Linked DNA regions of Homo sapiens. The protein of the gene in region 2 interacts with the protein of the main gene of each other region in a pairwise test. Each region holds a gene or a part of one and is shown on either strand. Other genes may lie near its edges.

Region 1 (3,661 bases), on a different chromosome or scaffold from region 2:
CCACAAGATGGTGGACAACCGTGGCTTCATGGTGACTCGGTCCTATACCGTGGGTGTCATGATGATGCACCGGACAGGTAGGTGCTGTGAGGAGCAGGGTGTCAAGGTGGGTGGGGGTCCAAGGGTAGTTGGTCTGACCCACCCCTGCACACAGGGTGCCCAGTGTCCTTTCCGCTCCTCTCCCAGGCCTCTACAACTACTACGACGACGAGAAGGAAAAGCTGCAAATCGTGGAGATGCCCCTGGCCCACAAGCTCTCCAGCCTCATCATCCTCATGCCCCATCACGTGGAGCCTCTCGAGCGCCTTGAAAAGCTGCTAACCAAAGAGCAGCTGAAGATCTGGATGGGGAAGATGCAGAAGAAGGCTGTTGCCATCTCCTTGCCCAAGGGTGTGGTGGAGGTGACCCATGACCTGCAGGTAAGGGGTGGCCCAGCCTAGGGGCCTGCAGGCCTTGGAGCCAGGGGGAGGTGCTTGGGGGACCCACTCACCAATTCAGCAGGTCTGTCCCAAGACCCCCTGGATGTCCAGGCAGTGCTGGGCTCTGTGATGGGGGAAGCTGGGGCAGGAGGTGTGGGCCATGCCCTTGGGAAGATGATGATAATACCAGCAGCTAAATATAACGGAACATTCCTGTATGCTAGGCGTTCTTCTAAGCACTTTATATGTATTATTATTATTTTTTTTTTGAGATGGAGTCTCACTCTGTTGCCCAGGCTGGAGTGCAATGGTGCCATCTCGACTCACTGCAACCTCCACTTCCTGGGTTCAAGCGATTCTCCTGCCTCAGCCTCCCGAGTAGCTGGGATTACAGGCATGTGCCACCACCCCCAGCTAATTTTTGTATTTTTAATAGAGACGGGATTTCACCATGTTGGCCAGGCTGGTCTCAAACTCCTGACATCAAGTGATCCTCCTGCCTCAGCCTCCCAAAGTGCTGGGATTACAGGTGTGAGCCACCGTGCCCAGCCTTTATACGTATTAAACTCTTTTAATCCTCAAAACGACTTTATTAGGTAGGACTATAAGTTTCATCTTAGAGATGAGGAAACTGAGGCTCAGAAAGGTTAAGTAACCTGTGCAAAGTCACACAGCTAGTAATTCAGACATCTTGCACCAGAGCTAACCCTCGGTCACTGCACTGCCTCTGAGGTCTGAAGTGCCCCCAGTTATAGATTGTTTAAGCTAGAGGATTATCTACCATCCAATAATCAGACTGGTAGCTATGGGTCATCTAGGATGGCCAGAAACTTAACACACATTCTCAAGATTCTCCCTTGCAACCACCCTGGGTAGTGGGCAGAGGCTCAGAGAGAAGCAATGACTCCCTAAGGTTCCCCAGGCTCATAAGTGGTGGAGTTGCAATTAGACCTCAAGGTAAAAACATAATAGCCGCCTTTTTGTCAATCGAGAGATATTTTTGACTTACCCAAAAAAGGAAACTTTCGTGTCATTCTTTCCTTGGATGCCACAAATGGTTCTCACCTGCAGAATCGATCCAGACTTGCTGCCCAGAGAGCTTGGAGAGATAAAGCTGGAGATGAAGTGGGGCTTAGGCTCCAAACCAGGGACAAGTGGAGCTCGTACTGGTCTGTGCTGTAGACCCTGGGAGTTCCTGGAGAGGGGTCACTGTCTCTCTCCTGGTCCTGGCCCTGATCCTTCCCCAGCCCCTTCTCCAGTGGCTGTTGTCCCACCCCCTTCTCCCCTTGTTCCTCTGGTGTCTTCCTGGAACCCTCAGTGGAGACCCCACCCCCCAGATATGGGGTAGATTGAGTTAGGAAATTTGAGGCGGATGACGTGTGCAAGGTCATCCGGGTGGGAAGAGCTGGGCCTACCTCGAATGCCTGTCTCATGACCCCCTGACTCTCAGGACCTCAGGCCTAGTTCCTGTGTGGCCTTGCCAGGGAGGTGGATGTTATCCTGAAGAATCCTGGACCCGGATGCTGCCATTCACTCAGCCCACAGCCATTTACTGTCCTCTCTCCTGCATTGAGAGCCAGGGAGAGCGCTGGACATGGGCCCCGCCCTCAGGGAGCTCCAAGCCAGGTGGGAGAGACAGGCAGCACCAGACTGATAACAGGAAGGTCCAGGGAGGCACCACTCATCCTGTGGGCTCGGGAAGGCTTCCTGAAAGAAGTGGTTTCTAAAGAGCCCTAATGGGAGACAGGATGGCCATCCAGGATATAAGCTGTTCTGTGAGGCTGTCTGGAGAGTGGGGTGGGGCGTGCCAAGGGATGTGGCTGGAGGCTGCCACGTAGGCACAGGTCATATGTTAAAGAGCTTATGGTTGGCTTCCAAGAGCTGTGCAGGGCCATGGAAAGATGTTTGTGTGTGTGTGTGTGTGTATGTGTGTATATGTGTTTTAACTTTTTACTATCGAACATTGGAAAAATAAAAGTAGATTAGTGTAATGAAACCTCAAGTGTCTGTCGCCCAGCTTCAAGCATTATCAGCTCATGGCCAATAGTGATCCATTTATACCCACTAATTCCCCCCTGCATCTGATTATTCTGAAGCAAATTCCAGGCATCCTATCACTCTGGACAGGTTTTCAGCCCCAGAGTGATGTGGACATAGTTGTCCTTAGATCAGTCTTTCTCAAACTTGAGTATGCTAAGAAAGCACTTGGGGAGTTTGTGAAAAGGAATCCATGCCCACTCCCAGAGATTCTGATTCAGGGGGTCTGGGCTGGGGTCAGGACATGAGCATTTGAGATAAGCTCCTGGGTGGTGCCCATGCTGTCTGTCCCTGAACTGCAGCTGGGCAGTGCCGGGATACGTTCTCACTTGTTTTTCTGAGTCTCAGCTTCCTCATCTGTGAAGTGGCAATTAGAAGCCCTTGTAGGGTTGCAGTGAGAATTGAGAAAGCTGTGATTTGAAGTGCCAGTGCCATGCCTGGCATACAGAAGGTGACCAGGGGGTGGTTCTCTCCTCTCTGAGGAGCGGTCAGGGTAGTATGGGGTGGAGGGTTTGAGGGTGGAGGAGCCTGGCAGCCATGGCCTCACCTGGCACACCTCCTTGTTCCCACAGAAACACCTGGCTGGGCTGGGCCTGACTGAGGCCATTGACAAGAACAAGGCCGACTTGTCACGCATGTCAGGCAAGAAGGACCTGTACCTGGCCAGCGTGTTCCACGCCACCGCCTTTGAGTTGGACACAGATGGCAACCCCTTTGACCAGGACATCTACGGGCGCGAGGAGCTGCGCAGCCCCAAGCTGTTCTACGCCGACCACCCCTTCATCTTCCTAGTGCGGGACACCCAAAGCGGCTCCCTGCTATTCATTGGGCGCCTGGTCCGGCCTAAGGGTGACAAGATGCGAGACGAGTTATAGGGCCTCAGGGTGCACACAGGATGGCAGGAGGCATCCAAAGGCTCCTGAGACACATGGGTGCTATTGGGGTTGGGGGGGAGGTGAGGTACCAGCCTTGGATACTCCATGGGGTGGGGGTGGAAAAACAGACCGGGGTTCCCGTGTGCCTGAGCGGACCTTCCCAGCTAGAATTCACTCCACTTGGACATGGGCCCCAGATACCATGATGCTGAGCCCGGAAACTCCACATCCTGTGGGACCTGGGCCATAGTCATTCTGCCTGCCCTGAAAGTCCCAGATCAAGCCTGCCTCAATCAGTATTCATATTTATAGCCAGGTACCTTCTCACCT
Region 2 (3,572 bases):
GATAAACCCATAAGTCAAGGAGTCTCTGTACAGCAAACCTCTTTTGAATGAATGGAGGCAGGAGTTGCAGAGGACAGAAGAGTAGACTATAATTATTATCTCAAAAAATTAATGCTGTAATAAGTACATATCAATATTGCCCATAAATAACGAGTAAAAATGTAGAATTTAAAGAATTTTACTTGATGGTATTTCTAGTCAAGTTCTAGGTAGTTGGGGGGAGAGGGGAAGGATAGCATTAGGAGGAATACCTAATGTAAATGACGAGTTAATGGGTGCAGCACAGCAACATGGCACATGTATACATATGTAACAAACCTGCATGCTGTGCACATGTACCCTAGAACTTAAAGTATAATAATAATAAGAAAAAAAAAGTTCTAGGTACTCAAAATTTCCAGGTAAAATATTGAAAATTATATTCAAGAGCATCATTTTAAACTGCTTCCCAAAGGTAGAACATCAGGAAATGTTTAAGATAGTAGTTCATGGTTGGGCGCAGTGGCTCATGCCTATAATCCCAGCACTTTGGGAGGCTGAGGTGGGCAGATCACCTGAGGTCAGGAGTTCGAGACCAGCCTGGCCAACAGAATGAAACCCCATCTCTAACAAAAATTAGTCAGGTGTGGTGGCGCGCACCTGTAGTACCAGCTACTCAGGAGGCTGAGGCCGGAGAATTGCTTGAATCCAGGAGGCAGAGGTTGCAGTTAGCTGAGATCACGTCATTGCACTCCAGCCTGGGCAACAGAGTGAGACTCTACATGTTTGGTATACATTAAAATCACCTATGGGGCTTCCCCAGCATATATATGCCCTGGGAACTGTCTGATTCAATAGGTGGGGTGGGCCTGGATATTGTTATTTCTTAAGCATGTTTCTGATATGCATTAAATGTTAGAACTATTTAGAATACTTAAAAAAACTAGTACATGTACATTATTTCAACTACTCACACAATTTCTGTAGGACTGAAACACAGAAATTAGCTACTGTTGGAATGAAACTGATAGAACCATTACCTTTGAAAAAAGGTTTTCTAAAATTTGTCTATCAAAATCATCCTGTGAAATTAAACATAAGACAAATGCCATTTAAAAACAGCAAAAAAATTTTTATATAATCTACGGTTTCTTTTAAAATAGTCTAAAATCTAACATACAGTAGGCATGATCTGATACAAATACAAAAGAAAATTAAATTTATTTAGAAAATAGTTTCTCAGTAAGATCTTCACCTTCTAAAGACTTCCATAAAAATATGTAATACTTAAATAATTACTAATAGACCTTTCCCAAAACACTGCATTGTAACAAATATAAAGTTGGACTTAACTAAAATGGTAGTTATGAGTGTTAGAATGATACCAGATACAACTAAATATATGCATATTATGATAAATAATAGCATAGCATTAAGAGAAGAATGCCAAAGAAGGGATAGTATCTTCAAGTTTTCTCTACACATCATTCTAGAAGAGCAGAAAATGATGACAACTCAAGCCATGTCAATTTAAATAAAATTACTTTAGCTAAGAAGCAGAAAATGTGATCAAGAAAAGCTCAATCAATCTTAGCCACTTCAATCGTATCAAATAATACTAAAAATAATAAATTTGAAGGCTAATCTATGCAAAGGCAGAATGCTAATAATACCAGAGGAAATTTGGCAACTATTGCCCTTATAGAATTATGACGTCACTGTAGCAGTTTTTTGTTCATTAGATGCTTGGATTAACGAAGATATAAATAAATTAAACATAACCTCTCCATTTTAGCAAACTTCCTAAAGAGGCTGAGTCTTTTAATTTTCTATAATTTCTTCACATTCCAATACATTCCTATCACATTTAACCCAGAAGAGATTAGGTAACATTCTAATGCTTTGTAAATTGTATTTAAACCCACTATTTTAACTTGATACACATGCATAGATTTCTTAGATAAAATAATCAAATATTGTTTGCATCATACAAAGGTGGTATTTCAAACTCTATTCAAATAAGTCAGTCCCATGTCCCACCAGTGGCAATTTATTATGAAAATAATGTGTGTGCTGTGAAATGGTGAAGATCTCTACAGACTACAAGCATTAAGTGTTTTTATTATGTCCTCTAATTGGTTCTTATGACTTGGGTCCCAAATAGAGAAAATTAATGAATTAAAGAAATCAATACCAATAAAAAACATATTAACTGTACTACAGGTGTAGTTTAAAAGCAGAACACAAAAAAGCCACAGCATGGCAGAAATAAGAAATGATGTCATCTCACACTGAACAACAGCCTTGTGGGGGGAAAAAAAAAGAAAAAGAATATCACCATGCTGTTTGATTGGCACTATAAAAATTGACTTTGTGGAACTCATAATTTCATATCCAAAGATCAGGCAGTGAAATAAATTAATATGTGGGAAAAGTGGCATGGGGATGAGTGGTGCAAATATCAGGATAATAACGAATTTTCTACATTCATTTGGAAGGAAAAGGACCATTGTGAAACTACAACCACCACCAAAAGTTGTGGTTTAATTTATAAAATTAACAAACCCCAAACTTATAGAAAACTCAGATATAAAATATTTAACTATAGTTGGCTTTCTGGTAACTCAAAATGTTTACTTATAATTGAGGTTAATTTCTTAACTCTTTATGCAATATAATGTACCAAATTTAGAAGCCAAGTGATTTCTAGTATGCATTAAGTTTATATCTAGAAAATTCTTTCTGGAATTCAGTATTTATTTTAAAAAGTGCATAACAGGAGTAAGAGAGGCTTACCAAAATATTTCAAAACTCAAGTACATTTTCCTCATCTCCAATATTTTAGAACGGAATAAAACATAAACTGAATCAAATTTTGAAACTGTCTTTGACAAGATAAAAACACCAAATATCTACTTAAAATTCATTTTGAAAATACAATCTCAGATAACTCAAACCAAAAGTGCTGACCATTGGTTTTCTCCAGAATACTCAGTTCTAAATGAACAAAAATTTATATGCACTTTTCTAGATTTTGAGAAACATTTTTGTTTCATTAGAAAAGTTATTTCTAACAATATATTAATAGAGAAATAGCACAATTCTTATTCAGCGCCTAAATTTTTACGAGCGAAAATATGAAATTTTATTTTTATGCATAGTTTATGTATTGATCCATGGGGCTTACAAATAGCAACACACTCTTGGGCTGATACTATCGTGGATTTTGCTTAAATTATGAGGGCAGGAAAATTTTAAAATCCCACAGGTCACAACTGAATCACATTAACTGGCTGATTTAGTAAATGAAGGGCAATTCTAAAATGCAAAATAAAAATGGAATTAAGGCAGCTTTAAAAGAAAATAAAACTCATCCACCCAAAATAGTGCTACATAATTCATTACTTAAAAAGCTCTCTGTGGAGTATAGACATAAAGCCAAAAATAAAAACAAACATTGCAGTTGTGATGCAGCATCAGGTGCTTTTACTTCAGTGAATGAAAAATAATGGTCACAACTCAAATGAATGGGAATTTAATATGAATATATGCACCTTACCAGAGATGTTTGCTACCAATGATATCTTAGCAAT

Evidence for each region. Proteins that work in one complex are often made in the same cells at the same time.
Region 1: the proteins of MYNN (region 2) and SERPINH1 interact in binary tests that used the Homo sapiens proteins (3 or more experiments, as listed by UniProt).

The regions. Positions count from the first base shown.
Region 1 is NC_000011.10:75,568,753-75,572,413, forward strand, and holds part of SERPINH1 (serpin H1 isoform 1 precursor), read left to right. Parts: coding exon 1-77; intron 78-186; coding exon 187-419; intron 420-3,028; coding exon 3,029-3,331; 3' UTR 3,332-3,661.
Region 2 is NC_000003.12:169,786,697-169,790,268, reverse strand, and holds the end of MYNN (myoneurin), read right to left. Parts: 3' UTR 553-3,572; downstream 1-552.